6 separate regions of the Homo sapiens genome follow, and regions 1, 2, 3, 4 and 5 are each linked to region 6. The links come from fine-mapping of genetic effects on gene expression. A gene starts in region 6. Each other region holds a variant in brackets. All regions are shown on one strand. Distances are between the middles of the regions.

Region 1 (4,898 bases), 68 kb after region 6:
GAAGAGCTCAGGCTCAGTGTGACCCAGGCCTTGCTATCTGGAGAAGCTGTGTCATGATAAAGTCAGTCACTTGTTATTGACAGCCACGAGTGGCAGTGGACATTCTGGTTAAGAACAAAGGCCTTGGGGTCAGCAAACCTGGGCCCAGATTTTACTTTTCCCACCTATTAGTCGTGTGGCATTGGACAAGTTATTTTACCAATGCTTAGCTTCCTTATGTATAAAATGAAGATCAAAATAGTACCTACCACTTAGCATGTTTTGGAGAAATAAAATAAGATATGTAGAACCATATGCCCCACTTCCCCAGCTGGGTATGTAAGTAATGTAATTTTCCCAGATTAGGAAATTCATAATCCTGTCCCTTCTTTGTGGACCCCCTTCCAGGGTCCAGCCTGGATACCCAGAAGTGCTTATTTGGTCTCAAGGGTCAGTCCTAGATCTTCTCACCCTGCCGGGTGTTCCAGGCTCCCCAGATGCCCTCTGCTGTAATGACATTGCTGCCAGAGCCTGATGGTGCTGCTACACCTGCTGCAGCTTGGCGAGCCACAGCAGAGCCCTTGACACTGACTGCCTTGCAGTGGCTCCTCAGGCCAGGAGGGAGGCTGTTTCTGGGTTGCCAGTGTGTAGCTCTTTTTTTTTTTTTTTTTTTTTTGAGACGGAGTCTTGCTGTGTTGCCCAGGCTGGAGTGCAGTGGCACAATCTCAGCTCATTGTAACCTCCGCTTCCTGGGTTCAAGCAATTATTCTGCCTCAGCCTCTCAAGTAGCTGGGACTACAGGCATGTGCCAGCACATCTGGTTAATTTTTTATATTTTAGTAGAGATGGGTTTCACCATGTTGCAGGCTGGTCTCAAACTCCTGAGCTCAGGCAGTCCGCGTGCCTCAGCCTCCAAAAGTGCTAGGGTTACAGGTGTGAGCCACTGCGTCCAGGCACCAGTGTGTAGCTTTTTAATAGAACTTCCCATGGCTGCTTGGGTTTACTTTGGGTTAAAAGCAATAATAAATTCATATATTACCCCCAATGTGCTTATGGAGACTAATGGGGAGGACACTTCAGCTAAAAGTGTGATCTGGCCTAAGGTAAAAACGTTTCAATCAGGTATTTGCATAGGTGGAGTGTGGCCTTGTTGTTCGAAAAGATTAATAATGACAAGCCAGGTGTCTATGCACTGAAGGCCTATGGGAGATGGTTCTGAATACAAAAAAATATGAACAACAACAACAACCATTTGTCTCTATCTTGCTTAAATGCAGGTAGGGGAATAATTATAGATTACATGGCATTTAGGCACAATGTTTATTTTCCTTAAGATTGGGGTTTGTGTGTGTATTGCAATCCTTGACCACCAGAAGAATGAGGAGGCATAGCTTTGCCTCACACAGATGGCTGGTCTTGGAAGAAGACCAAACCTGGAGTACCAAGACCTCTTCCGAGCTGTCCTGTGGAAATGCCTCAGTGTTATCCTAGACTGAATCTCCTGGACAGACAGGCCATGCTGGTTGGCCAACACACGTATTTTAACTATGTGGCCGACGTGTTTGCCACTCACTCTGTGGTTAAAATGTAAACAGAAGGTCAAAAGGTAGGATCACAGGCCAGGCATGATGGCTCACGCCTGTAATCCCAGCACTTTGGGAGGCTGAGGCAGGAGGATCATTTGAGTCCAGGAGTTTGAGACCAGCCAGGGCAACATAGCAAGATCCCATCTCTACAATAAATTTTTAAGTCAGCCAGGCCTAGTGGCATGCACCTGTAGTCCCCACTACTCAGGAGGCTGAGGTGGGAAGATTGCTTGAGCTTGGGAGTTCAAGGCTGCAGTGAGTTGTTACCATGCTCCTGCACTCCAGCCTGGGTGACAGAGTGAGACTCTGTCCCAAAAAGAAAAAAAAAAAAAAAACAGAGTAATATCACAATGTACATATCCCGACAAACTCCCTGCTTTCTGCTTACGAGGAGGAATTGGCAACACAGAATCATGCAGCAGGAAGAATCCATGGTTATACTTATAAAGCAGCCTTTTGAATTGGGTGGGTGGGGTGGGTTGAGAGTCACAGAGGCCTGGTTCCAGCCTGCTGGTCTTCTGTCACACTGACTTCTGCGATCTTGAATGAAGGGACATGGGACTTCCCCTGAGTTAGATGACCAGTGTGACTGATTTGCTGGGCCCAGCTTGTGTGGATTGGTAGGATGGAGTCAGAGTGAGAGCAAATTGTACAGTAAGGTGGTGACTGTAGCAGGAGG[A/AT]TAAAAAAAGAGCCCTGGCTGATGAAGCGCCTTCCAACAGAGGTGGCTTAAATACTCCTTCCCCGGCCGGGCGCGGTGGCTCACGCCTGTAATCCCAGCACTTTGGGAGGCCGAGGCGGGCGGATCACGAGGTCAGGAGATCGAGACCATCCTGGCTAACATGGTGAAACCCCGTCTCTACTAAAAATACAAAAAAAAATAGCTGTACATGGTGGCGGGTGCCTGTAGTCCCAGCTACTAGGAAGGCTGAGGCAGGAGAATGGCATGAACCTGGGAGGCGGAGCTTGCAGTGAGCTGAGATCGTGCCACTGCACTCCAGCCTGGGCGACGGAGCGAGACTCCGTCTCAAAAAAAAAAAAAAAAATACTCCTTCCCCAGCAACACTGTCAGTAACACACAGCTGTATATTTCCACAGGCCAAGGGAAGTCTAACCCCTGTGGAAAGAAGGTGGGTTTTTCCTAAAGGTAAACCTTCCTAAGGGAAAAATGGAGAAGAATGGCCCTCAAGACAGGAAGCAGAATTAGGGATTGGGTGTGAATTATGTAAATTTTGTTTTCCTTTACCTTGGACTCTGGAAATGGCCCAATTTAGTGCCAGGTTTTAAGTTTTTCTCCTGTGTATTATATCCTCTAGCCACCAAGTCCTTCACTAGCAACTATTTACATCTGCAGCCTGGCGTGATGATGCCGTGGGGAAATGAGGGACAGAGCAGAGCTGGCCATGGGGGCTATATTAGTCCATTTTCTGCTGCTATAAGAGAATACTGCAGAGTAGGTAATTTAAAAAGAAAAAAAAATGTTGATTTGACTCATGGTTCTAGAGGCTGGAAAGTCCAAGAACATGGCACTGGCATCTGGCAAGGGTCACCCCATGACAGAGGGGCAGAAGGAATATGAGCGTGCAAGACACGGATTAAATCAAGCTGAACTCATTGTTTAATGAAAACCCCACTTCTGTGATAACTAACCCATTAATAACAGCATTAATCCATTCATGAGCGCGGAGCCCTTATGGCCTAATCACTTCTTAAAGGTCCTACCTCTTAATACTATCACAATGGCAATTGAATTTCAACATGAGTTTTAGAGGAGACATTCAGACCATACATAGTAGGATCATAGCTTGCTCCATGTCACCCTGCTATGAAGCCAGCAGCAAAGTCAGGGCAAGCCAAGGATGGAAGGAGCCCATGATACAGAGGAGAGTGGCCTGACTCATGAACAGGCATTTGTATATAAATATAGATATGTCTCACAAATACAGCAGAGGAAGGAACCCTTGCTGGAGAAAGAGGTGAGCACTCTGTAAGGTTAATGGGAATTTATTTCCTTTTTTTTTTTTTTTCCTGAGCAGCCCCTCTTTTAGGGAGGAAGTCTATTACTCCAAACTCCTGATGGCAGAGTTAAAGCCTCACAGGTCTGAACAGATATTCCCCTGGGATATTCAGCTTTTGGGGAACAGCCAGCTCAACAGTGAACCTCTAATCTCATGGCAAATTATTTAAATCTGAGAATCCATTCAAGTCTTATTTTGAGTACCCTAGTCCATCCAATATCTTTTAATAATTTTGTATCTCAAAAAAAGAAGGGAATTGTCCTTACGTAAAAGTTGGTATGTAAACAAAAGGTTATAAACAGGTTGGTATGTAAACAAGTGGTTTTCTGTAAACAAGTGGTTATTTATATCCTATTAAGTACTATATACATCAACAGTATATAAATAATAGTCCCTGGCCAAGGCAAAGACATAATCTATTGCGTCTTCTGCTGGAAAAGAGAATTGCTCTTACCAGAATAAAGGACTGTGCTCCAAAGGTGAATTAATGTTTTCATCTCTATAGACTAAAAACTTGTCAATAACTTCCAAAAGCAAAAAACTCCTTAATGTCCTTTCTCTCCGTGGTGCCCAATTACTTGCACCTGCACACGGCATGCACTCATTGTTGGTGCTGCCAGTGTTCCAATCCCTTCTACTGAACCCTGCAATGCTCTCAGAGCCTGCTGCTCTTCTTTAGTTCACTTGGCAGTTAATATGATGTTGAAAACACCACCATTCATTAAGAGTGGAGGGGTACAGCACCATTGCTTTCAATTCAGATGGTCTGTGGTAGAGACTACAAGTGGTCACCTATTTCCATTCTTTCACTTTTGTGCACAGCACCAAAATCCCCAATATTTTTTAAGGCACGTGGCCATCAAGGATACAGTGTGACTGTCTGTGCTTCCCTTGCAGTTAGATGTGGGCATAAGATGACATCCTGGACAATGGATTGTGAACGAATGTGATGAGGCCATCTGCCAGGTTGTGTCCATGAGAGGAAGGTGTACACCCCTTTTGCCCTTTCTCCTTTCATAGAAGGAGGACAAGTTGCGGAAGAAGCCAATCTTCTAGGGAATCCAAGCAACCCAATCAAGGAAATCTGGATTTCTGACACCAGTACTCAGTGGCAGAAGTTCCCAAACACTCTCGTTTCATAGTATAGTGTCGCCATAATTTTTTCATATTGACTCTAGGCCAAAAGAATGCCTAAAAATTCTGTTTCTAGGCAGTTGTATCTAAGCAATTTGCTATGTCCTAACAACTTAGAAGTCATTTGAAAAAAAAATAATTCAAATACATTGAAAGAAAAAATACTGTTATTTCTATTCTTTTT
Region 2 (4,898 bases), 130 kb after region 6:
CCTGTGTTCTCTGTCATTGCCTGTGAGCCACCGACTGATACCATCATTTTAATCACTCAAGAAGCCTTCCTTTCAGGAATGTATATTGCTTCTTGGCCCCTGCCTTCTCCCTGGAAATCCTGGGCAAAGAGCCAGGGAAAAAACGTGAGTGCTCAGGCCGAAATCAGTGGGCTGGAATTGTTTCTTCACTTTGGGTGACTCCACTGTTACTCAAGGAATGAACTGATTGGCACCAAGCAAGAAGAACAGCACATCTCTTTGGACTCATTCCCTTATTTATAAGCCATAACCTTAGGGACAATAAGCTAGAGACCCTGCCAGCATCCTTGAGCCAGGATCTCATCTGTTGTCACAGTAGCCATGTTTCCCTGGCATCCGAGAGCCCAAGGATGCAAATAAGGCCTGGGCCAAACTAAGCTCTGACAATTAATGTTATTCCAAAGAGGCAGCAGCGAGGGTAGGAAGTTCTGGTCCCCTCATCTTACTTCAAGTTTCACAGCCAAGAGTGATGATAGCTTTAGTCAGTAAGTACAGTCAAGGAGCCTATGAGACAGAACTTGTCACAAAGACAGCTGATGTTTCGCATGGACCTTAACAGAGTAACTGGTGTCTCTTCAGGAATGGGGCACAATCCAGAGGTTACTAACCACGGGTGAGTAACAGGTGATCCACAACAATCTCATCTGACTCATAGTAGAGATTGCTGGCATCTACCCAGCATTCATTCCCCCTCTTCCTAAGAGAAACTCAATTCGTTGTAATCAGCAACATATTCCCAACAGGAAAATCACATTTCAAGCCTTCCTTTAGATAGGTGACTACATTTTGGCCAGTGAGATAGGAGTGAAAGTTGTCAGATGGGCTCCTCCTGACAACTCCTTTAGAAGGGGCTGACCCAGCTGTCAGCCATTTGCCCTGGTGTGTCCTCCTCTCTACTGACTACAATATAGGTGTGATGGCTAGAGTAGCAGCTGCTATCTTGGGACAAGGGGAGACCTTGGGGTAAACAGAACCTAGGATAGTAAAGCAGAAAGATAGAAGAGCCTGGGCTGATGATGATGTGGCAGAACTGCCAAACAAGCTCTGGACTGCTAATCTCTGGACTTAACTTTCAGGAAACAAAATTAAACTCTATCTGGCTCAAGCCACTCTTACTTTATGGACCAAGAGCATTGGCAGCACTTGGGAGCTTGTTAGAAAGGCAGCTTCTCAGGCCCCTTCCCAGGCCAAATGAGTGACGATCGGCTTTGTAGCAAGATCCACAGGTGATTTGCATGCACAGTAAAGTTTGGGAAGCACTGCTCCAGATGTAGTTAGTTTCTCTGTTTATGAAATTATTAACTGATATATCCTGGGAAATAATGAATTCTATTTGCCGGTACTAAAACATGGTAAGAATGATATAACCATAGGATAAAACAACTAAAATGCCCTGAGTTATTTGGATACAAAGAAAGAAAGCATTCATGTCAATTAGGTAATTGATGTTCCAGCCACTATACCTGGCACCAGAGAAGTAAAGATATCCCTGCTCTAGACTCCATGGTCTAACAAGGGAGACATATAGATACTGTGTATTGTGTTGCATTGCATTATAAGAACCGTTTGGATGCAATAAGAGCTATGCCCAGGTGTTCCGGGAAAACAGATGAGGGGTCTAAGCCTTCCCTCCTGGGCTAGGGAGTAAGTTAGAGAAAACTTCTTGGAAGAGATGTCACCTGAGTAGTTAAGAATTATCTTGCTTCTTCCCCCAGTTTCAGGGATCAGAGGCCATCCTTTGTGGGCTTAAGTCAGCCTGCTGGCCTCCCCAGCTGCTCCTTAAATTCTAAGAGTTGGCATAAAAGACACAGGTTACAACACGAATGTCTTCATCCTACACGATCTTTACTTTCTCTGTTCACAATGTGGGCTCCTTGGCTCCATTTTACATATACAGGAAATTTGGACACCGAATAGAGAGTGAATTTCAAAGGATTCAGAGAAGGCAAACCCATATGAGTGTTTAGAGTTCATTGATCACTAGTATCTTCTTAATTTTGTGAACACCGGGTTCTGAATTCCTTCATTGACTAGCTATTTCTCTTCATGTCTTCTACAAACATTCTGAAGTTGGAAATCCTTTTTATTGGTGTTTAGAATAAGTCAATGTTTTTCCTCTCTTTATATTTCTACTTGATATTCCTCAGTTTTCTGTATTATTAAAAATGAAATCACATTTTTGGATACTTGTGGTTTGGCCGGCTGGTTGGGAAACTTTTCTGGCATTCATTATTGCTTTTTTCTTTCCATTTAAAGAACATTTACTGGATTTGGTACTTGGCGAAAGAAACTGACAAATTAAGAAATGAGAGAGAGAATAAATGCACTGTGCATGCTGAAACCCCAAGAAGACTTTTTTTCTCCTACTTTTTATGGACCTGAGGTGTTGGAAATGGAAACATTGTTTCAAACAAAATCCAGATTTTTATCTCTCTCCCCAAGAGATATGGCTTTAATCTTTTTTCTTTTCTTCTGCTGCTTTTCTGAAACACTCTGCTAGGGGCTGATTTCCTCTTCTTTGAAACAGACCAAAATATCCCTGTGGGTGAAAAACATGCCGGAAGTGAAACAGAAAGACTCAGCTTGCCCCGTGTTCGTGGTCTGTCAACTTCTCTAGCCAGTGCCTGGATCCACAGCTCACTGCTGCCGGTTGCCCTGCGTTAGCCGCATTGCGGGGGAGACAGGAGAGGCTTGAAGGCTTTTTATATTCTACTCTCTTCTGAAGAATTCACAAGTTAGCAAGCACTCAACCACTACTAACC[A/G]GAAGGTATTGCCAACCATAACAAACTACACCCATCAACAAGGCCTCCCTCATATTGCAATCCCAGCAGAAAATGATGCAGGAAAAGCACTCCCCAAATCTTGGTTGCCTGCCACCCAAGTTCTTATGCCAAGATATGTGTTTAGCCAGTTCTAAGATGCTGCCACCTTTTCATGTGTCCAACACTAGGCTTTCTACCATAGTTCCCTCCACCCAGAATGTGTTACTTGGCTCCTACAAATGCAAGAGGAAGTGCCCTTCCCTGAACAGAAATCAAAACACAGGGTGAAACCACGACTTGTTTTCAACAGGCCTCCTGTTGTGAGCCCTCCCAGCTGTGCTGCCTTTCTCCAAGAGAGCTGGGACTGGCGGCTCGAAGCGGTATAAATGGCCTGTGCCTCTTCCTGAGGCTGCCTGTAACAAGTGTCTCAAGAGCAATTCGTCATCGGCTGGAGATTACCAACTTGGCTCACTGAACCAGATCGTGCTTTGTCACATGTGAAATTCTGATGTTCTAATACATGGCTTGTTTGCAAACTACGCCTTAAATAAATATATTCAGGATATTTAACAATATAGTGTTCTGAATTAGACCATCATTTACATCTGTATTTATTCAATAATCATTTACTAAGTGCCAAATACATGCCGAGTACTATGCCGAGTGCAACAGTTAAAACGCAGGAAAAAGATCGTATTGCCCTTACTGGGCTATAAATTCAAATCTCTGTCTCATCTCATCAAGCAATCTTTCCGCCTTGGCCTCCCAAAGTGCTGGAATTATAGGCATGAACCACCACACCTGACCCAGGAGAGTTTTCTTTAACGAGTGATGCTTGATCTCAGTTTTGAAAAGTATAGAGGTGTTCACCTAGAGGAGAGGAAAGAACAGAGCATTCTGGAAAGAGGACTGTGGAGCAAAGGCAAAGAGATATTACATAGCCTGGCATGGTTTGGGAACTATAAGCAGTTGAAGTTGGTAGTGAATGGGGCATGAGAGGAAGGGGAGGTAGGCAGAGGCATGATCGTAGAGAACCCTGTATTCCAATCCAAGAATCAAAGTCATCATCCTGAAGGCTGTGGGGGCAATATTGAGGAGATTCCCAGAAAATGAGTGATATTTACTTGTCTTCATGACAGCAAATTGAACAGCAGGGGTTGAAAACAGGGGAAGGCTAAGTAGCAGATCATTGCAATAGACCAGAAAAATGAAGGCTTGAAACTTCAACGGGCAACAGGGATGAAGAGTTGAGAACAGATTTGAGAGAAGTGAAAGGAGTAGGATCTGCAGAACTTGGAGACTGACCGGATTCTGGAAGATTAAGGAGATGGAGATGTCAAGGGTGAATGGTTCCCAGTTTATTATTTAGGAACCCGAAGGAATGCTGGTGTGTGCGGAATTGGTGGGTTCTTGGTCTCACTGACTTCAAAAATGAAACCACGGACCCTCGCGAAGAGTATTACAGTTTTTTTAAAAAAAAAAAAAAAAAGACGGAGTCTCGCTCTTTAGACCAGGCCGGACTGCAGTGGCCCTATCTCGGCTCACTGCAAGCTCCGCCTCCTGGGTTCATGCCATTCTCCTGCCTCAGCCTCCCAAGTAGCTGAGATTACAGGCCCCCGCCACCGTGCCCAGCTAATTTTTTGTATTTTTAGTAGAGACAGGGTTTTACCGTGTTAGCCAGGATGGTCTCGATATCCTGACCTCGTGATCCACCCGCCTTGGCCTCCCAAAGTGCTGGGATTACATGTTACAGTTCTTAAAGGCGTCGTGTCCAGAGTTTGTTCCTTCTGATATTCGGATGTGTTCAGAGTTTCTTCCTTCTGGTGGATTCCTGGTCTCGCAAGCTCAGGAGTGAAGCTGCAGACCTTCCCGGTGAGTGTTACAGCTCTTAAGTCGGAGAGTCTGGAGTTGTTCATTCCTCCGGGTGGGTTCATGGTCTCGCTGGCTTCAGGAGTGAAGCTGCAGACCTTCCCTGTGAGTGTTACAGCTCATAAGGGGAATGTGGACCCAAAGAGTGAGCACCAGCAAAATTTATTGCAGAGCGAAAGAACAAAGCTTCCACAGTATGGAAGGTGACGGGTTGTCACTGCTGGCTCG
Region 3 (4,898 bases), 120 kb after region 6:
TTATAATCATAAGCCTTAATTATTATTATTAATATTATAATACTATATATCGTTTTCCTTTCTTAGTCTTTAGCAGAGTTCACTTTGAAAACGCCAGCTTCCCTTTGCTGTGAAAAGGGAAAATATAAGAAAATTCTTACAGACAATAAAAACCATAGAAAAGCCACCAAGTTTCTAAAATACTTGCTGGGCTTCCATGTTTCCCTGTAAAATCAGTGCCTCTGATCTTCTTCTGCTCCAGGCTTTAAGGAGTGGCACCATTTTCCCTGGTGCATTTCCTGGCATTTTTTTCTTCTTGCTGTTTGCCTTGTTTTATTTTATTAAAGTGACCTCATCATGTTGGTCCCAGCAGGTCAATCAATTGCCCCATTGATTTCAGGAATGGAAAATAATGGCCGTCTATGGGCTGGAGGTAGCATATGTAGTGGATGCTGTGGTCTCAGCAGAGATCTTTCAGGACGAGGTACTCATATACCAACTATGGGGAGAGTTGGCTGACTTCAGGTACAACCTGTGTACAGGGCCCCATGCTCAGAGGGCCTCGCACTTGATTTAATGCTCTGCTGCTGCCATCTTGAAATTTGTAATACTTTTTGAACATTGGCTTCAACATTTTCTTTTTGCACTGGGCCCTACAAATTATGTATTCAGTCCTGATGACCACACTCACGGGGAAACCTACCTAGAGCATCATGTGCAGTGGAAACCTGAGATGTTCCCTGAGCTCATCAGGAGTGACTGTTTTGATGTGTTGGCTCTGCCTACCATGGATGTGGGAAGAGGTGAGGGGCAATGGGGATGCTAAATGCTTCCCATCACTGGCTGACTGGGGCAAACACCAGCTTAGGAGAAAGGCTTAGCTGGGTGCTCCAATCCTCTGGGCCCACTCACGTCTTTGTTCTGGTCTAAGAGATGCTAGACTCTAGCCTTCCTAAGCTTCTGAAGCTTTCCATGATGCTCAGTCAGGGGCATCCACTCTTCTCCTTCCCTTTCCCCATCAGGCCCATTCAGAAGTGGGCCTGAACGGGGATGAGGCCCTCTAAGTCTACTGATATCACTTTTTCATTTTCACAACCCAACAATACTTTACCTGCTTAAACAATGAAGCACATGACATTTTGATGAAGTCTTCCTGGTGCAACTTTTTTTTTTATCTCTGGAGCATTTTGCTATGGGGAGAAAAATCAAGCAATAAAATCTTCAGTGAAAAAAAAAATTGAGTTGTATGCATAACGGAAACATCACCTCATCTCTTCTGTTCTCTTTTAATAGCACTTTTGCAAAACTACCCAGTAAACCTGTACGTTGTTCATGCCTGAGCCATGCTCAACCTCTATACCTTTCCCCAGCCCCTACTCTGCTTTTTGCCCCAAACCTGCCTCTTTCCACAACTACAATTTCTATTCCTAGAGTTGCATCAAAAATGAGTAAGGAAAAAAGAAAACTGCTTATTACTGCTAAGTGGAATGTTCATCTAAACAGAAAATGCACCCAATTTTAAATTAGTAAAAATAATTGCTAACATGCATATAACACTTGAAAGAATACCTGGCACAGATATTAAGCACTTTAGAACTCACTTACTCCTCACAGTGTGTTGCAGCACAAAGAAGTTAAATGAATTTCCTAATATTACTTTACAGTGAAAGTGGATGGGGCCAGGATTCAAAACCAGTTTGCCTGTATTCTTTCTTAACCACTATGCCATCTCCACATGTGTCCTCAAGTCAAATGGTGAGGACTTCATCAAATATGTTATTTTTTTACCTTAAATATAAAGTTTAAGAGACTAATGAGGCAATAGCCAAATAGACAACTTGGTCAAAGTTTGCACATTGACAAATGCAAATTCTAGTTCAGTGTGGAACAGTGGATGTGTGACAATTGGTAAATGAATTTTATTTGTTCAGTCTTGAAAAGACCAAGAATACAAGCAGAACATGTAAAGGGGAGAGCCATCATAAAAGTGCTTAAATGTATCAGAATGGAGAGAAGAATTTTGCGACTTTGCACCTGAAAAAGGAATACAAACACAGAACTACTTCCAAATATCTGAAATAAATCTCCTATAATTTTCTTATGAATTAATCATAAATAAAATATTATCTTTCAACCTTTTGTACATTTTGAATAACTGTTACCATAATTCATTTTCATCAAATATCCTTTGGCGTGAGAAAAGTGGATTTTCAGATATTTTATTAGTGTCAATTTTATCAAAGAAATTTTCTAATAATATAGATTTTGCCAGCTGGTACCAACAAGGAGGAATGAAGTGGTGGTGGGGTGGGGTAGGCTAGGTTCAGGGACAGGGAGTGGAAAGAGGGGCGCTAGAAAAGATAATAAAAATAGTACATACTAGGTAACAGGTTTCAACAAAAATGATAATTGAGGAGACACGCCAGAGTGGTGTGAGGGTCAAAACAGGGCAGTTGACATTACCTGATAATTTATTTTTTAAGCTCTGTGTTAAAACAGTTGTGTCAAAATGGCCTCTTGGTAATCCCCTGCATAACAACTCCGTGGGGTGAGATGTGTGAAATGCCTGGGATGGTGCCGGGCCCTCTGGAGGGGCCATACTCTACATGACCTTGCAAACGGCTTCTCTTTCACAGCTTTCCAGAAGAGCAAACCTAAGTCAGAGTAGAGAGGCTTGTTCCAAC[C/T]AGCTCTAGGCTTTCGCCTTCACGCAGCAGGAAACCCGGGCTGCTCTCCAGCTTCTCCAAGACTTCACCCAGCTTTCAAACTCAAACTGCTGGACTGGAGAGAGAGAGAGAGAGAGAGAGAGAGAACATTTTCTCCAATTTCAAAATCTCTGTACAAAACTCATGTAATTGTTCAGTAGTCACCAAGGTGCGGGCTCCCATCATTCCTTTTGGAATTCATTCCCCATTTATATTCTAACTCTACATGAAGCTTTCTTTAACAATGGCTGCTGCATAGATAGTATGTTGACTTTAATAACTTAAAAATAGCTGCCACGGTGCATTTTTAGATATAGTTAATGGTACTTTCTGAGAATCTGTGGTTTTTGAAAGATAGTGATCTTCCCCCCAACCCCAGTCCACAGATATGTGAAGCTAAAAAATAAAAAGGGGGAGGGACTTGGAGACAGATATCCTGAGCGTATGCTATGTTTTTCTGACACCTCTGAGTTTTATAAACTTAGAGAACCATTCTTGGATCCTTAGTTTTTGTATCTATAAAATGGATGTCACACTATGCCTCATCTTTAAATGAAACTTGAGACAGCTGAATAATAGCAGATTACATTTAAAAAAATTTTTTGGTGAAGAATTTTTATTTTAAGAGGGCTTGGTATCTTCTTTGTTGTTTGTTTTTTATTTGTCATTTCCTGACATAGGGTATTGGTATCTAAAAGGATGGCTCATGAGGAAAAAATATAGACCAATGACTGGCACTGACTGCTAATATTTATTGCATATGTACAAATATTTTACATGTATCACTTCATTTTAGCCTCATAACAATCTTACAAGATATGTATTTTTATTATCTACCTGTATAGATAAAGAAAACAAGCATAGAGAGAGTTGAGCCACCCGCTTGCCTAAGGTCAGCCAGGAGAAATGGTAGAAGCTGGATCTGAGCCCTGGCCACACCCCTCCAGGGCCCGACCTCAAGACCTCATAACATCATCCTTTGAAGGCCTGAGGTGGGACCCTTCCCACCTCCACTCCATGGGCCAGCTACTAGAGCAGTAATTCTGCTCAGACATAAGGTCTCTTTTAAAATATTATTTACTTTTTATTCATTCTATAGGCCTCACTTTAGATTGGATTTATCTCAATAGAGAGGAATACAAATGTGGATAAAAATCATGTCTACATATTGAAAACTTCATTAGAAATAAACATTTTAATGTTCTGCCATGAGTTTCCTAACTTAGTCCTTTTGAGGCTGACAGTAAAAATTTGCCTTCAGAGGTAACAGTGGGTAGGCCACCGAATGCTCTCCCAATCAGAGAACTTATAGTTTATAACCAGCAATCTAGGGACATGAGCATTTTAAAATTCCAGTTTTTTTGAAGGTGTATCATGTTTTAAAAAAAAATTTTTCAGAAAAAGCAATGCATTAGAATCCATACATGTATTTGTAGAATGTATGGAGTGGCTATTCTTAATTGTGGCTGATCACAATAGCTGGCATATCATAGGGGATCAGTAAATACATTTCAAATGAACAGATGGACAAATGAACTTGGTAAAGCCAATGTCACTTCCAGTTCTTGCCAAAATAATATTATCTAATATTTATTGATAGCTGATTATATGCCAAGTATAGTCTAAATGTATAAAATGCCCTCACTCATTTAACTCTCAAACAATGCTAGGAGGTAAGGACTATTTTTAATCTTTATTTTTCACGAGAATCTTGAGGACCAGAAATAGTAACTTGCTCAAAGTAAGTTACGCACCCAAAATTCAGACTTGGGTCCTATGGCCTGAGTCTATGCTGGAAGCAAAAGGGACAAGCTTTGTCTTGAAGAAACAAAGCTTATCTAGGCCTGAATAAGCTACGCTCAAGCGTACTCAGAGAAGCGATTTGCAGATTTTCTGAAGGGGCCTCCTGGGGTTAAGTGATTAGGCTGACCAAGGAGGTTATGCAAGGGCATTATGTATCAGCAAAAGCCAGGTGGGCAATGAGTGAAAGTAAGCTGTGGGCCCACGCACTATAAGGAAAGGACTAAAAGAATCATCAGTTCCTGAGGCCAATGGAGATGGCACTCCATTGTAAGGATTCTGTTGGGGATCCAGTTAGAAATATTCTTTGATAAGTGAATGAGACTGAACATACGGGGATTATGGACCTCAATTTTCAACATCTAACTTCAGTGTGGTGTCCAATATCTTATCCCCTGGCAGAATGGGCAAAGGGTC
Region 4 (4,898 bases), 77 kb after region 6:
TTCCCTGAATGTGCAAGACAGATCTAATTCTCAATGGTTGCCTGGCACTGGTTAGCTCTGGACCCACGGACACTTTCACTGGTAAAATTACTGAGATGATGATCGTGAAGCTTAATGAACAAAACATGACTAAATTAACTTGTGGTCAGTCAACAATTCAATCCGAGGACACTGACACTGTCTCCCACAATTGGCTTGACTGTAACAGGGCAATGCATGAATAACATAGGGAGACTGAGCTTTGCCTTTGGATAAATGTTCTACACTTGCCAACATAGGAGAGCAGTGGATTTTCAATGTAAGATGATAATGACGTGGGTTTGTTCTCATTTCTGCCTCTTGCTGAGTCCTTACCCTAGAAAAATCACAATTCTGTTTTTGTTTTTGAGATGGAGTCTCACTCTGTCATCTAGGCTGGAGTGCAGTGGAGCAATCTCAGCTCACTGCAACCTCCACCTCCCAGGTTCAAGCGATTCTCATGCCTCAGCCTCCCAAGTAGCTGGGATTATAGGCGTGTGCCACCACACCTTGCTAATTTTTGTATTTTTAGTAGAGACCGGGTTTCATCATGTTGGCCAGGCTGGTCTCAAACCCCTGACCTCATGTGATCCACACGCCTCAGCCTCCCAAAGTACTGGGATTACAGGCATGAGCCACTATGCCTGGCCCCACAAATATATTATTGATAGTCGGCTGCTCTATGAAAAAAATTCTAAGGGATCTACCTTCAGGAATATAGGTAAGTGAAAGTTGCAATTTTCTCTGGAAGGAATTTTAATTGTAGACATTTTAATTTACATTAAATCATTAATATATTTTCCTGTAACTCACTGTATAAGAAATCTTTCCTTCAGAACCTAATGGGGCTCAAAAGTAAAAATAAAAGTAAAAAGTCTTTCTTGACTGATCCTGGAGATTGGAGTGGGGAGAAACTACAGCAAGTTAAGAATAGAGTCTGGGCCTTAATAAATTGACAGATATACCATGTTCATAGATTGGAAGATTGAAGATTGAATATTGTTAAGACATTAATTATCCACAAAATGATCTATAGATCCAACTCATTACCTGTCAAAATCTCAGCAGTATTTTTTGTAGAAATTGATGATCATGTTCTAAAGTGTATATGAAAATACAAAGAACCTGGAAGAGCCAAAACAAATTTGAGAAAGATGAACGAACTTGGAACACTTATATGACCCGATTTCTAGACTTAAAGCTACAGTAATCCACAGAGTGTGGTGTTGGTGAAAGGATAGACATATAGACTACTGAAAAAACTATTCTTAACCTGGGCCCATTCATATATTGCTAACTGATTTTGACAGAGGTGCTAAGGTAATTCCATGGGGAAGGTATAGTCCTCTCAACAAATGGTGTAGAAACAATTGGATATCTACATAGGAAAAAAATGAATTTCAGTCTTCATCTATTATGGAAAACTCAACTTGAAATGGATCATAGACCTAATGATAAGAGTTAAAACTATAAAACTTAAAGAAAAGATAAGAAATCCTTGTGATCTTGGGTAGACAAACATTTCCTAGAGAGGCAACAGAGGCATGAGCTATAAAACAGATAATTGCCATAAAAGAGCCATAAAAATAAATGATAAGTAAATTGTTTCATGTTCATACAAAGCAACCCTACTCAGCATTACCAAGGAATAAACTGCTGATACATGCAACAATATGGTAATCTCAAAAGCACAATACTAAGTGAAAGATGCCAAATGCAAAAGATTACAGGCTATATTATTTCATTTGTATGAAATTTTAGAAAAAGCAAAACTTTAGTGTTAGAAAGCAGATCAGTCTTTGCATGGAGCCAGGGCAAGTGTCTAACTGCAAAGGGACATAAGGAAACTTTTGGAAAATATGCCTTGTGGTGCTGATTGTGTGACCATATGCATTTGTCAAAACTCATGAGACTGTACCCTTATGTGCAGAAAAGAGTTAACACAGCCAATCTGAGGTTGCTATTCTTAGAAAGGCCTGCTTGGAAGGTTGGCTCTTGGATGGTGTCTGGGAACTTGGATTTTTGGAGTCTTCTCACTGTTCTCTAACTTATGAGGGTGGTTTGCTGTGTCTAGACTGTTTATGCAAATAATGTGCTTTATGCTAAACATCTGCTTTCCTTCTGGAAGTTCTGGAATTTTGGTACA[C/T]GTTAGGCAAAGGTGCCTATGTAAATAGCCCCCAGTTAAAACCTTGAGACTGAGTCTTTAATGGGCTCTCTGGGGAGAAAATTCACCCAAATTGTATTTTAAAAATACAATTTCAACTTCTATTTTAGATTCAGGGGTATTACGTGATGCTAAGTTTTGGGGTACGATTGATCCTATCACCCAGGTAGTGAGCATAATACTCAATAGTTTTTAACTCTCACCCTTCTCCCTCCCTCTCCTTCTAGTAATCCCTAGTGTCTATTGTTGCCATCTTTATGTCCATGAATACCCAATGTTTAGCTCCGTCTTATAAATGAGCACATGCAGTATTTGGTTTTCTTTTCCTGCATTAATTCACTTAGGATAATGGCCTCCAGATGCATCTATGTTGCTGCAAAGGACATTATTTCATTCTTTATGTTTGTGTAGTATTCTGTGGTGTATATATACTACATTTTCTTCATTTAATCCACTGTTGATGGGCACCTAGGTTGATTCCATGTCTTTGCTATTATGAATAGTGCTACAATAAACATACAAATATATGTGTCTTTTTTGATTAAACAATTTGTTTTCTTTTGGGTATATACCCAGTAATGGGATTGCTAGGCTGAATGATAGCTCTGCTTTAATTTAATTAATTTATTTTTATTTTTTGAGATGGAGTCTCGCTCTGTCACTCAGGCTAGAGTGCAGTGGCACAATCTCAGCTCACTGTAACCTCTGCCTCTCAGGTTCAAGAGATTCTCCTGCCTCAGCCTCCTGAGCAGCTGGGACTACAGGCACGCGCCACCATGCCCAGCTAATTTTTTGTATTTTTAGTAGAGACAGGGTTTCACCATATTGGCCAGGCTGGTCTCCAACTCCTGACCTCATGATCCACCCGCCTCAGCCTCCCAAAGTGCTGGGATTATAGGTGTGAGCCACCGCGCCTAGCCTGCTTTAAGTTCTTTCAGAAATCTCCAAACTACTTTCCACAGTGGCTAAACTAATTTACATTCCCACTGACAGTGTATAACATTCCCTTCTCTCTGCAGCCTCACCAGCACCTGTTGTTTTTTTGACTTTTTAATAATAACCATTCCAATGGGACACACGTTGTATTGGTGTCTTAGGGCTGCTGTAACAAATTGTCACAAACTAGGTGGCTTAAAACAGATTTATTCTCTCACAATTTTGGAGGCCAAAAGTCTGAAATAAAGATATTGGTAGGGCTGAACTCCCTTCAGAGGCTTTAGGAGAGATTCCATTCCTTGCCTCTTCCAACTTCTGGTGGTTTCCCAGGCATGTGACTGCATCATTCCTATCTCTGTCTCCATAGTCACATTTCCTCCTCCTTTTCTCTGTGCCTGTCTCTCCCCTGTGTTTCATTTATAAGGAAAGCCTTGGGATCCCTCTGGCCCTTTCCTCCCTCCCAAATCTCTTCTTGGCTACTAGGCTGGCCTTGTGGTCAGAGTGGGTGTCAACCACCAGCTGGAAAGACCTCTGATCTCCAGAGTCCCTTGTCATTTCCAGATAATGCCAACAGCATTGCTACTGGAGAGAACCATTCCAGAGTCTTGGTCTTCCCCTTTTAAAATGCAAATATCTGTGACAAAGCGGATAAAATTATGTGTAGAGTATAACGCTTTTCTTATGATGTTATTTGAAAAAGGAATTGTATAATATAACACAAATGAGCTTATGGTGGTGTCCTCCCGTCTGAGGGCCAGCACTATAGCTCTCCCCACCATCTCTACCAAAACAGACTCTTTGGGAATAATGAGAGCATCCTGATGGAGGAAAAGGGGCCTAGGAGAGGCTGAGGCTTTTAAAAAGGCCTTCATCTACATTGGGCATTTGTTCAGCATTCGCCTGCTTTGCTAATTTGGTTGCTGCATGCCCACTTTGGGACAAGAAGGAAAGCACTCTTCTCCAATACATCAACTAGATGATTAATAAATGAAGAAGTGAAGTTCATACTCATTGCTAGCTCTGGTACCATAGCAGCAGAGGCCATCTGTAGCAGCATGTTCCACTTTAGGGGTTAGATGACCTAGATTCTATGACCTTCCACAGCCACCAACTGGCTGTTCTGTACCCTTAGCAAGTCACATTCTGCTTAGATCTCAATTTTCTTATCTGTCCATGAGACAGATAGCACCTACTCTATCCTCTCTATAGATTTTTACAGCATTGCAGCCATCAGAATGAGGGAACCTGCAGTAGGAATGGATGTGCCCCTTTCCCCTCCCTTTCTTACATTGGTTCCCTGGGCAGTGTGTACTTGGGTATTGGTTAGTATCTGGGACTGGTGACCAGAGAGGTCTCTCGACCAGATGCAGATGAGTGGATCAAAAAAGGATGTACTGACACGAAGTGGCAAGCTGGATAAAGAGTCAAAATCCAGCGGTGTGTTATATTCAAGAGACCCATCTCACATGCAAGGGCACACATTGACTCAAAATAAAAGGATGGAAGAAAATTTACCAAGCAAATGGGAAACAGCAAAAAGCAGGGGTTGCAATCCTAGTTTCTGACAAAATAGACTTTAAATCAACAAAGATCAAAAGAGACAAAGAAGGGCATTACATATTGGTAAAGCGGAGCTAACTATCCTAAATATATATGCACCCAATACAGGAGCACCCAGATTCATAAAACAAGTTCTTAGAGACCTACAAAGAAACTCAGACTCCCACACAATAATAGTGGGAGACTTTAACACTCCACTGTCAATATTAGATAGAACATC
Region 5 (4,898 bases), 23 kb before region 6:
TATATATATATATAAAGCATGAAAGTCATAGTTTCTGGCTGATAACTCCCATAGCCCTCTTGTTATAGCCTTTTTGGCTATAACAAGACATTGGCTGGGGCATTTTAGGCCTCAGGAACAGGCCTCAGGAAACAATCTCTCTCTGTCTCTCTGAACTTCTTTCCTCCTTTCACCTGTCCAAGGCAAGTCAAAAGACCCTCATTCCAGAAAGCGTGCCCCATACTCTGAAGGAAGCAATGCTGCACAGAGGCCAGGAAGAATCTCAACAGTGGGTCTTACTGGGTTTCCCCGCTCAGCCTATTTGTATGCAGTCATACCCTTTTCGTCCAATCACATTTCTGCACTGTTGTCAATCATGCCTATGTAATGAATTCTCTTTTAAAACACAAGAGGGCCGGGCACGGTGGCTCATGCCTGTAATCCCAGCATTTTAGGAGGCCAAGGCAGGTGAATCGCTTAAGCCCAGGAGTTCAAGACCAGCCTAGGCAACAGGTGGAACCTGGTCCTACAAAAATTACCAAAAAATAGCCAGATGTTGGTGGCGGGCTCCTGTAAGTCCTAACTACTTGGGAGGCTGAGGTGGGAGGATTGCTTAAGCCCAGGAGGTCGAGGTTGCAGTGAGCCATAGTTGTACCACTGCACTCCAGCCTTGGTGACAGAGTGAGACCCTGTCTCAAAAAACAACCCCACAACCGTTCCCCGCCAACAACTCCACCACACACAAGAGGACAGGGTTCAGAGAGCTTCTGAAGAGGTGACCACGTGGAGGTTCCTGGAGGGTGGTATACCTGGAGACGGCCTTCAAGCTTTGTACCCCTTCCCCTATACCTTGCCCTACACACTTCATCTATATCCTTTGTAATATCCTTTATAATAAATGAGTAAATGCAAGTAAGTGTTTCCCCGAGTTCCGTGAGCCACTCTAGAAAATTAATTGAATCCTGCTGGACTCAGTGGCTCACGACTGTAATCCCAGCACTTTGGGAGGCCAAGGTGGATGGATAACCTGAAGTTAGGCATTAGGGACCAGCCTGGCCAACATTGTGCAATCCCCTCTCTAATAAAAATACAAAAAGTAGCTGGGCATGGTAGTATGCCCCTGCAATCCCTGCTACTTGGGAGGCTGAGGCAGGAGAATCGCTTGAACCTGGGAGGCGGAGGTTGAAGTGAGCTGAGGTCGGGCCACTGCACTCCAGCCTGGGTGACAGTGCGAGGCTCCATCTTAAAAAAAAAAAAAAAGAAAAAGAAAATTAATTGAAACCAAAGAGGGGGTTGTGGGAACCCCAACTTAAATCTGGTCAGCCAGAAGTTCCAGACACTTGGACTGGCGATTGGTGGGACTGAGCCCTCAACCTGTGGGATCTGACACAATCTCCAGGTAGACAATGTCAGAACTGAATTGGAGGACACTCAGCTGGTGTCCACTGCAGAATCTATTGTTTACTTGCTGGTGGAGAGAAATCCCCACATATTTCGGGGTCATAGAAGTCTTCTGTGTTTATTGTGTTGATATGAGTAGAGGAGTTTGGCTTGAGAGATTTTTCCAAACAGGATATCATTCCCTTGATCAATTTCATTATAGAAGACTGTCTAAAGTAACTAGAGAGACTTTCTTGCTGCTAATTTTTGTACTTTTTGTAAAGACAGCTCTCACTGTGTTGCCCAGGCTGGCTCCTGCTCTTGAGTGATCCTCCCACCTCAGCCTCCCAAAGTGCTGGGCTAACAGGCATGAGCCACTGTGCCCTGCCCTTGCTGGCTTGTTGTTTGGGGCTGCCATCAGCTCCTAGAAGCCACCCACAGTTCCTTGCCACATGACCCTCTCACAACATGGCAGTTCCTATCTTCAAAGCCAGCAAGAAAGTCTCTCTAGCATACCCAGCAAGAATGTATAGGGCTGTTCAGGGCTCACAGTAGATTACCTTTCTCAACAGATGGAGTAGGGGGTGACTTAAAGTGTGCATAATCTTTAAAAATTAGCATTTTCCATTTGTACTCTCTAAATTTGGGTTAGCTGGATCCAAACCCCATGATTCTGCTACATATGGGATCCCAGTCCACCTATCTCTAGCATACTTCCTCTATTAATCATTCTCTCTTGACATTTGCCACCTCATTTTAGCCAGCTGTGCTTGTTTTCACTTAT[G/A]TTATTTTATGAGCAGTGCTTATTTTGACAGCAGCATACATAGTGGAATGATGGCTGGTTCTGGCATTTAAAAAGCTGGATTCACATTCAAGCTCTACCATTTGCCAAATAAGAAACCAATACTCCCATCAGCCAACTCAAGTAGTAAAGTTGGAATAGCATAGTGCCTTTGATTTTTTCCCTTACAGGGGTGTAGTAGTGAAGGGTATGTAACTCAAAATAATCTTCTTGAAAGTCAAGCTTCTCCTCCTTTCCCCAAAACTTGTTCCCCACCTGAATTCTCTACTTGTTACAGTCACCATTCATCCATCCCGACCTCCTCCTCTTCATACCTTTGCATCAAGGCTTGCCAGTTTTACCTTCTAAGCATTGTTCTTCTGCCCTTTTCTTGACCTCCCAACTGCCATTGTCTATCTTTATCATGTGTCAATCCAGTAGTTCCCTGAAGTAGCTTCTAGCATCATGCTGGCCACCATTCTATGATGTCTTACTACTGCCTGAGCTTGTCATTTCTCTCATTTCAAACACCTTTCATCCTCATACAGTCCAATTTCCTTACACATGTTTTTGCCTTAATTCCTTCTACATCTCACCTTGTGTTGTTTTACACTGTAATATTACTTATTTCTTGTATTTCCTAATATCCACCATGGCATTTAACATTTTTTGTGTCTTTGATGCTCTTCCTACCTGGAATACCAATCCTGTTTTTGACTAATTCCAACTCATTTAAAAATTTTGATCAGCATGGGACATGGTGGCTCATGCCTGTAATCCCAGCACTCTGGAATGCTGAGGCAGGAAGATCAACTGGAGACCAGCCTGGCAACATGGCATGACCCCCATCTCTACACAAAATTTTTTTTTTTTTGAGACAATGTCTCGCTCTGTTTCCCAGACTGGAGTGCAGTGGTGAGATCTCAGCTTACTGCAACCGTCACCTCCTGGGTTCAAGCGATTCTCCTGCCTCAACCTCCCAAGCAGCTAGGATTACAGGCATGCGCCACCACGCCCAGCTAATTTTTGTATTTTTAGTAGAGACGGTGTTTTACCATGTTAGCCAGGGTGGTCTCGAACTCCTGACCTCATGTGATCCACCTGCCTCGGCCTCCCAGAGTGCTGGGATTACAGGTGTGAGCCACCATGCCTGGCCACAATTTTTTTTTTTTTTTTTAATTAGCCAGGCATGGTGGTGCACACCTGTAGTCCAAGCCAGCTGGGAGGCTGAGGTGGGAGTGTTACCAGGATGTGTGGAGTCCTCTGTTCTTAGTCTTCTTGGGAGAAGAAATTTGGCCAAGAGACCAATTAGTAAAGTAAACAAAGACATATTAAGGAAATAAGAATATGCTCCAAGAGAGGAGTGGGCTGACCCTGCTGGGAGCAGTAGTAGTAGCAGTCTGTTTAAAGAGATAGTATGCTCTGAAAGAAAAGTCAGAGTGGGCTGCTGGAAAGAGAATGAGCCAGCAGCCCCTAGGGTTCTGCATTGAGATTTTTGTTATGTTGGGACTGTTTCTTTAAGTTCCCACCTCTGTCTCAAGTCTCCACCTCTATCTTTATCTAGCTTCCCCCTTCTGCATTAAGTCCCTGCTTTTTTCCTGCCTAGTTCCTGCTCTAGGTTTATGGGATTCTCCTTTACTGGTAGTTAAGGCACATGCAAGGACTGGTGTTGGGTACAATCCTAATGGCAGCTTTGCTTATTACCCTCTAGCGTTGCCCTCTAGGAAGGTCATATAGCAGTTATATGTGTACATATTACCCCTGCATATCTCTCAGACTCTTAGAAATTTCCCCTTTGCCCTTTTTTTTTTTTTTGAGACAGAGTCTCAATTGTGCAGGCTGGAGTGCAGTGGCATGATCTCGGCTCACTGCAACCTCTGCCTCCCAGGCTCAAGCCATTGACCTGCCTCAACCTCCTGAGTAGCTGGAATTACAGGCACTTGCCACCATGCCCAGCTAATTTTTGCATTTTTAGTAGAGACAGGGTTTCACCATGTTGGCCAGGCTGGTCTTGAACTCCTGAACTCAGGTGATCCACCCACCTCGGCCTCCCAAAGTTCTGGGATTACAGGCGTGATCCACTGTGCCCAGCCATCCCCTCCTTATCAGCATGTGGCTAGCTCCATTCTGACCGATTAGCTGCAGCGTGAGTGATTACTGGGCATCTTAAGAGTTGTTCTGAGGTGTTTCTTCGTGCACAGGTATTTTCCCTCCTTTATGCTCATATCTAGCATGCAGATTTCCAGTGGTCTCTGAGGTGTGAGATTTTCCAGACCTCCCTTTCTTCAGGCTCCCCCTCCTGCTCATGTCTAGGTATCTGCCTGCTGTAACAGGAGAACTGCTTGGGCCCAGGAGTTCAGGCTGCAGTGAGCCATATTTTGGGGTGAAATTCCCTGTGCTCCCTCAGTATGTCCACATAATGGGATATTATGTTGCTATAAAAAATGAGAACACTCTATTAATTGGGTCCAGGACAAGTCACGCCAAAATATGACTTTAGGAGACCAGAATATGCCAGGCCAAAATATGTCTCTTTAACATAAGGATTATTTTGAGCTGTTATTTTGAGAAATTGTAGACACAGTAGAGGCTCTGAAAAGTTATCCTGTGTGAGAGAAATTTACATCTATCAAAGAAATCTCCATTTGTGAGACTGTGTCCCTGTCTACACCAGGAAGAGGAGGACACTAGATCACTAGACTCTTAATCAATGGAGAAGGCATTGACTTAAATCTGCATAGCAGAACTTACCTTTGTT
Region 6 (4,898 bases):
CTGGAAGCCTGATGCGCGGCAAGCACAGAGGCCTCCCACTGGACTCCTACAAAGTAAGCACCTGCAGACGCCCATGCCCCAGTGCTACAAACAACCTTGGACACCCAATAATTCCTCAACCACCATTTCTACAGAGTAGCTCAACCAGTCTGTAAAAAATCATCACCTTAAACTCCTGGAATTTTCACACCTGAAATAAGCCCAAAGTTACTGTACTTAACTCTAATCTAAAAAGTAACTACTAAACGAACAGAAGGGGCGAAACTAAATTTATTTATCTTACATATTCTAGGTTAGCTTTTCAGAAGTAAAATGAGTCATATTCTAGAGGTTTAGTTAATGTGGACTTCATGTTTCTGACCACATGAAATGTTGGCATTGAAATTCAATGATCCCTGTTGCTTACTGTGAGAATAGTCAAAACCCAGAATTTTCAGCTAAAAATGTAATTTAGAATATGCTTACTGAATTGAATTAAGGTTTTGCATTAGGATAAACACTGTGGGAGTGATTCTGGTATAGTGGGTTTGTGTTTTTGTGCAAGATGCTTACAATACCACAGCCCTTAGAATAATTGTACACTCTTCTGGCCCGTTTCCCAGGTTTCCTTGAAAAGGGTCAGAGGACAGGCTGAAATTAATGACACATGAATGCAGAACCTCAATTAGAAGTGTCTTCAAAGGAATAATTAGGCTAGACTTAATAAGAGGGGATTAAGAGAAGAAAAAGCTTTGGGCAAATTATACACTGAAGGAAAGGAAGATAGGAAACAAGGCAACGATAGATTGGAGCTGATTATTTCAGGAAGTGATTTTTGTTCTATTTATCTTAAAAATAATATAAATATAGTGAGACATAGAGACAACAGATGGATGGATGGTCACTGACCTCTTACTAGGAGTGGCAATGTGAACATTGGGACGCTTCCTGGTGCATGTACCCTGCAATTGTTAGTTTAGTACCCCTATTCCCTTTGTGAAAGAGGCCAGGGATTTTGCTTCCCCCAAATAACAGTAACAGCAGCAAAAGCAGCAACAAACCCTTCAAATCTGCTTACCCTGCCAGATATTGTTTCACTTTCCTCATCTGTAAAATAGGGATTACTTTATGATGGAATCCCCACAACAACCCCCGGAGGTAGGTACGATATAAGTGCCTTGTTCCAGGTCATACAGCTAGGTAGTGTCAGAACACAGATTGAAATTCAGAAGCCTGGCTCCGAAGTTTGAGCTCTCATTCACCGCACTACATATATCTATGGGAGGATAGGCGACACATGCATGTAATAAATGTGTGAGCATTTATTGTACTGGAAACTCTCCAGCTCCTCCCTCTCTACATGATCCTTTGCTTCTAATTTTGTCAATCACAGCACCTTCCCTGGCCCTTACTTTGTTCTTGCCAATCTCCTCTCCTTGAGCAGAAGAGGGAAGGGAGCCTGCTCTGTAGGTGAACAGCTCCTCCGCAGAGGCATCCTGTTTTCTTAGTGCAATCACTAATTCGCATTGCAAAATGCTTTATTACATGACTGGGTTGCCATTCTAGGAGCATTCACTGAGCGCTCAGAGTGGGAACGTTTATCAGGCATGCAAATGCTAACTTACTTTCTAGAGAATGTTTAACTTAAAAGCCTAAAGAAATCTCAGATAATTCACTTCGGAGTAGAAACCTCCTTCAGCCGCGCTCACTACGGCGCCCGGCTTCGCGGCACCGGCCACTAGAGGGCAGTGGCCGCCGCAAAGCCGACGCGGGCGGTGGGCTCGGCGGCTCGGCCATCGCTTGCTCTCGCCTGGCAAGGGGCTCTCGGCCGTGGATTAGCGCAGCTGGAGACGTGGGAGGCCGCGGGCCCCGCCCCCGACCGGCGGCGGCTGCGGCGGCCCAGCGCGGCAGTCGGCGCTGCGAAGTGGAGGCGCTGCGAGCGGAGCCGCGCGGAGGGCGCGACCGGCTGGTCCGGGCAGCGTGGGTTTGCCGCCTTCGGGGCTCCAGTCCGCGCGCCAGGGCTCGAGCAGTACCGCGGGCCCCTCAGGTGGGCCTCGGCTCGGGACGCCGGGAGTCGGGACCGCCAGTCGGGGCGCCGGGACCATGGCGCTGCGCGCCCGGGCGCTGTACGACTTCAGGTCGGAGAACCCAGGAGAGATCTCGCTGCGAGAGCACGAGGTGCTGAGCCTGTGCAGCGAGCAGGACATCGAGGGCTGGCTCGAGGGGGTCAACAGCCGCGGCGACCGCGGCCTCTTCCCGGCCTCCTATGTGCAGGTGATCCGCGCCCCCGAGCCTGGCCCGGCGGGAGACGGCGGCCCGGGCGCCCCGGCCCGCTACGCCAATGTGCCCCCCGGGGGCTTCGAGCCCCTGCCTGTCGCGCCCCCCGCCTCCTTCAAGCCGCCGCCTGACGCCTTCCAGGCGCTGCTGCAGCCACAGCAGGCGCCGCCTCCGAGCACCTTCCAGCCGCCCGGCGCGGGCTTCCCGTACGGCGGGGGCGCCCTGCAGCCGTCGCCTCAGCAGCTCTACGGCGGCTACCAGGCCAGCCAAGGCAGCGATGATGACTGGGACGACGAGTGGGACGACAGCTCCACGGTGGCGGACGAGCCGGGCGCTCTGGGCAGCGGAGCATACCCGGACCTCGACGGCTCGTCTTCGGCGGGTGTGGGCGCAGCCGGCCGCTACCGCCTGTCCACGCGCTCCGACCTGTCCCTGGGTTCCCGCGGCGGCTCGGTCCCCCCGCAGCACCACCCGTCGGGGCCCAAGAGCTCGGCCACCGTGAGCCGCAACCTCAATCGCTTCTCCACCTTCGTCAAGTCCGGCGGGGAGGCCTTCGTGCTGGGGGAGGCGTCAGGCTTCGTGAAGGACGGGGACAAGCTGTGCGTGGTGCTGGGGCCCTATGGCCCCGAGTGGCAGGAGAACCCCTACCCGTTCCAGTGCACCATCGACGACCCCACCAAGCAGACCAAGTTCAAGGGCATGAAGAGCTACATCTCCTACAAGCTGGTGCCCACGCACACGCAGGTGCCGGTGCATCGGCGCTACAAGCACTTCGACTGGCTGTACGCGCGCCTGGCGGAGAAGTTCCCGGTCATCTCCGTGCCCCACCTGCCCGAGAAGCAGGCCACCGGCCGCTTCGAGGAGGACTTCATCTCTAAGCGCAGGAAGGGCCTGATCTGGTGGATGAACCACATGGCCAGCCACCCAGTGCTGGCGCAGTGCGACGTCTTCCAGCACTTCCTGACGTGCCCCAGCAGCACCGACGAGAAAGCCTGGAAGCAGGGCAAGAGGAAGGCCGAGAAGGACGAGATGGTGGGCGCCAACTTCTTCCTGACCCTTAGCACGCCCCCCGCCGCTGCCCTTGACCTGCAGGAGGTGGAGAGCAAGATCGACGGCTTCAAGTGCTTCACCAAGAAGATGGACGACAGCGCGCTGCAGCTCAACCACACGGCCAACGAGTTCGCGCGCAAGCAGGTGACCGGCTTCAAAAAGGAGTATCAGAAGGTGGGCCAGTCCTTCCGCGGCCTCAGCCAGGCCTTTGAGCTGGACCAGCAGGCCTTCTCGGTGGGCCTGAACCAGGCTATCGCCTTCACCGGAGATGCCTATGACGCCATTGGCGAGCTCTTCGCGGAGCAGCCCAGGCAGGACCTGGATCCCGTCATGGACCTATTAGCGCTGTATCAGGGGCATCTGGCTAACTTCCCGGACATCATCCACGTTCAGAAAGGTAAAGCCTGGCCCTTAGAGCAGGTGATATGGAGTGTATTGTGCAGGCTGAAAGGGGCGACTTTGACAGCAGTACCACTGTGGGTTTCAGAATCATATTCTACAGGTGAGGAAGCGAGCAGAGACGTGGACGCCTGGGTCTTTTCCCTAGAGTGTAAGTTGGATTGCTCGACAGGCAGCTTCCTCCTCGAGTATCTTGCATTAGGGAATGAGTACTCTTTCTCGAAGGTTCAAAGAGTACCTTTGATGACAGTGCTATCATTTTAGAGTTTGAATAGTTGAGTAATGAGCTGCTCAAATCTGTAATCTTGAGACGAGGGTAGAATTAGAAGGGGACCTAAACCATGTTAGGTATCTGTTTGAACACTGCACTGTCACTTAGTGGTGAGTTTCAAAAAGTGAGGAAATAATGGAGAAGAACGGATGTCTGTAAATAGAAATCTGCTTTCACCCTTCCACACCTCTCAATCTCTGCTTTGGTAGAGGAATTAAGATCAATTCTCTGAGTTTAAGAAATTCCTGCAAAGAATTCTTGCCTGCAACCTTTACGAAGTGAAGTAATTTCAGGAAAAGCGTACTCATTTTGAGTTTGAAATCTATTAATGTACTGAAATTGAGAACGTTGTTTAGGAAAATTGTTTAGGGAAACTACATAGAATGAATATAATCTGAGTATTGGATCTGAGAGCAGCGTTGCTGGTATCCCAGTGAGTTAGCTGTCCAACTATCAGAGTTCATGAGTTATTAATAGTTGTTAGTGTCTCTGACCTTTGCTAAAGCACCAGAATTTGCAAATTAAAAAAATATATAGCAGTAGTGCTTGTCTTAACATTTCTTACTAATGTGCATTCTCATATAATGCCTTGATTGAGAGAATGGGGAGGTGTGGGAGTTAGGGAGGCAGTCTTGCCTGTGAAAGTCCAGTGTAGGGGCGGCTGGGCAGGGAAACCTACTCCTGAGCAGGGAAACCTACTGTCCCTGTTTCCTCAGCGGGTCTGGCCTTTACTGGTGAAGTGCTCACTGCCTTTCTGGTGGGCCAGTCCGTTTATGAGCAACCCTGATCTCTGGCATGTCTTTTCTTGTATTGAACTGAAGTTTGCCTCCCTTGATTGTCTTTCTGTTCCCTGGGACCGCCTTCAGACATTTGGAGACAGCAGTCTCGCTTCCTTCCTCTCTGCTTCTCTCCTTCCCCTTCC

Alleles and levels. Alleles are on the strand shown, and positions count from the first base shown. SD is a standard deviation of normalised expression in the study named. Not every link is listed here.
For the expression in esophagus mucosa of the gene that starts at base 1,889 in region 6, allele C in region 3 goes with a lower level than allele T (moderate effect, 0.56 SD a copy in GTEx).

The links. PIP is the estimated chance that this variant, and not a neighbour inherited with it, causes the effect.
Region 1: its variant is fine-mapped to the expression of SNX18 in whole blood (TOPMed, PIP 0.99).
Region 2: its variant is fine-mapped to the expression of SNX18 in whole blood (TOPMed, PIP above 0.99).
Region 3: its variant is fine-mapped to the expression of SNX18 in esophagus mucosa (GTEx, PIP above 0.99).
Region 4: its variant is fine-mapped to the expression of SNX18 in whole blood (TOPMed, PIP above 0.99).
Region 5: its variant is fine-mapped to the expression of SNX18 in whole blood (INTERVAL, PIP above 0.99).

The regions. Positions count from the first base shown.
Region 1 is chr5:54,583,414-54,588,311 of GRCh38, forward strand. It overlaps a transcript of SNX18 not described here. Among named protein-coding and RNA genes, the nearest start is that of SNX18, 68 kb to the left of the region's middle. The variant A/AT (reference allele first, on the strand shown) is at 2,245.
Region 2 is chr5:54,643,774-54,648,671 of GRCh38, forward strand. It overlaps a transcript of SNX18 not described here. Among named protein-coding and RNA genes, the nearest start is that of LINC02998, 98 kb to the right of the region's middle. The variant A/G (reference allele first, on the strand shown) is at 2,802.
Region 3 is chr5:54,635,227-54,640,124 of GRCh38, forward strand. It overlaps a transcript of SNX18 not described here. Among named protein-coding and RNA genes, the nearest start is that of LINC02998, 110 kb to the right of the region's middle. RefSeq lists an enhancer at 4,286-4,860. The variant C/T (reference allele first, on the strand shown) is at 2,664.
Region 4 is chr5:54,592,433-54,597,330 of GRCh38, forward strand. It overlaps a transcript of SNX18 not described here. Among named protein-coding and RNA genes, the nearest start is that of SNX18, 77 kb to the left of the region's middle. The variant C/T (reference allele first, on the strand shown) is at 2,165.
Region 5 is chr5:54,493,107-54,498,004 of GRCh38, forward strand. No RefSeq gene overlaps it. Among named protein-coding and RNA genes, the nearest start is that of SNX18, 22 kb to the right of the region's middle. The variant G/A (reference allele first, on the strand shown) is at 2,144.
Region 6 is chr5:54,515,871-54,520,768 of GRCh38, forward strand. It overlaps SNX18 (sorting nexin 18), which reads left to right and starts at 1,889. Exons shown (of 2, transcript NM_001102575.2): 1 at 1,889-3,703. The coding sequence starts at 2,083. RefSeq lists silencers at 1,643-1,884, 1,765-2,324 and an enhancer at 2,797-3,741.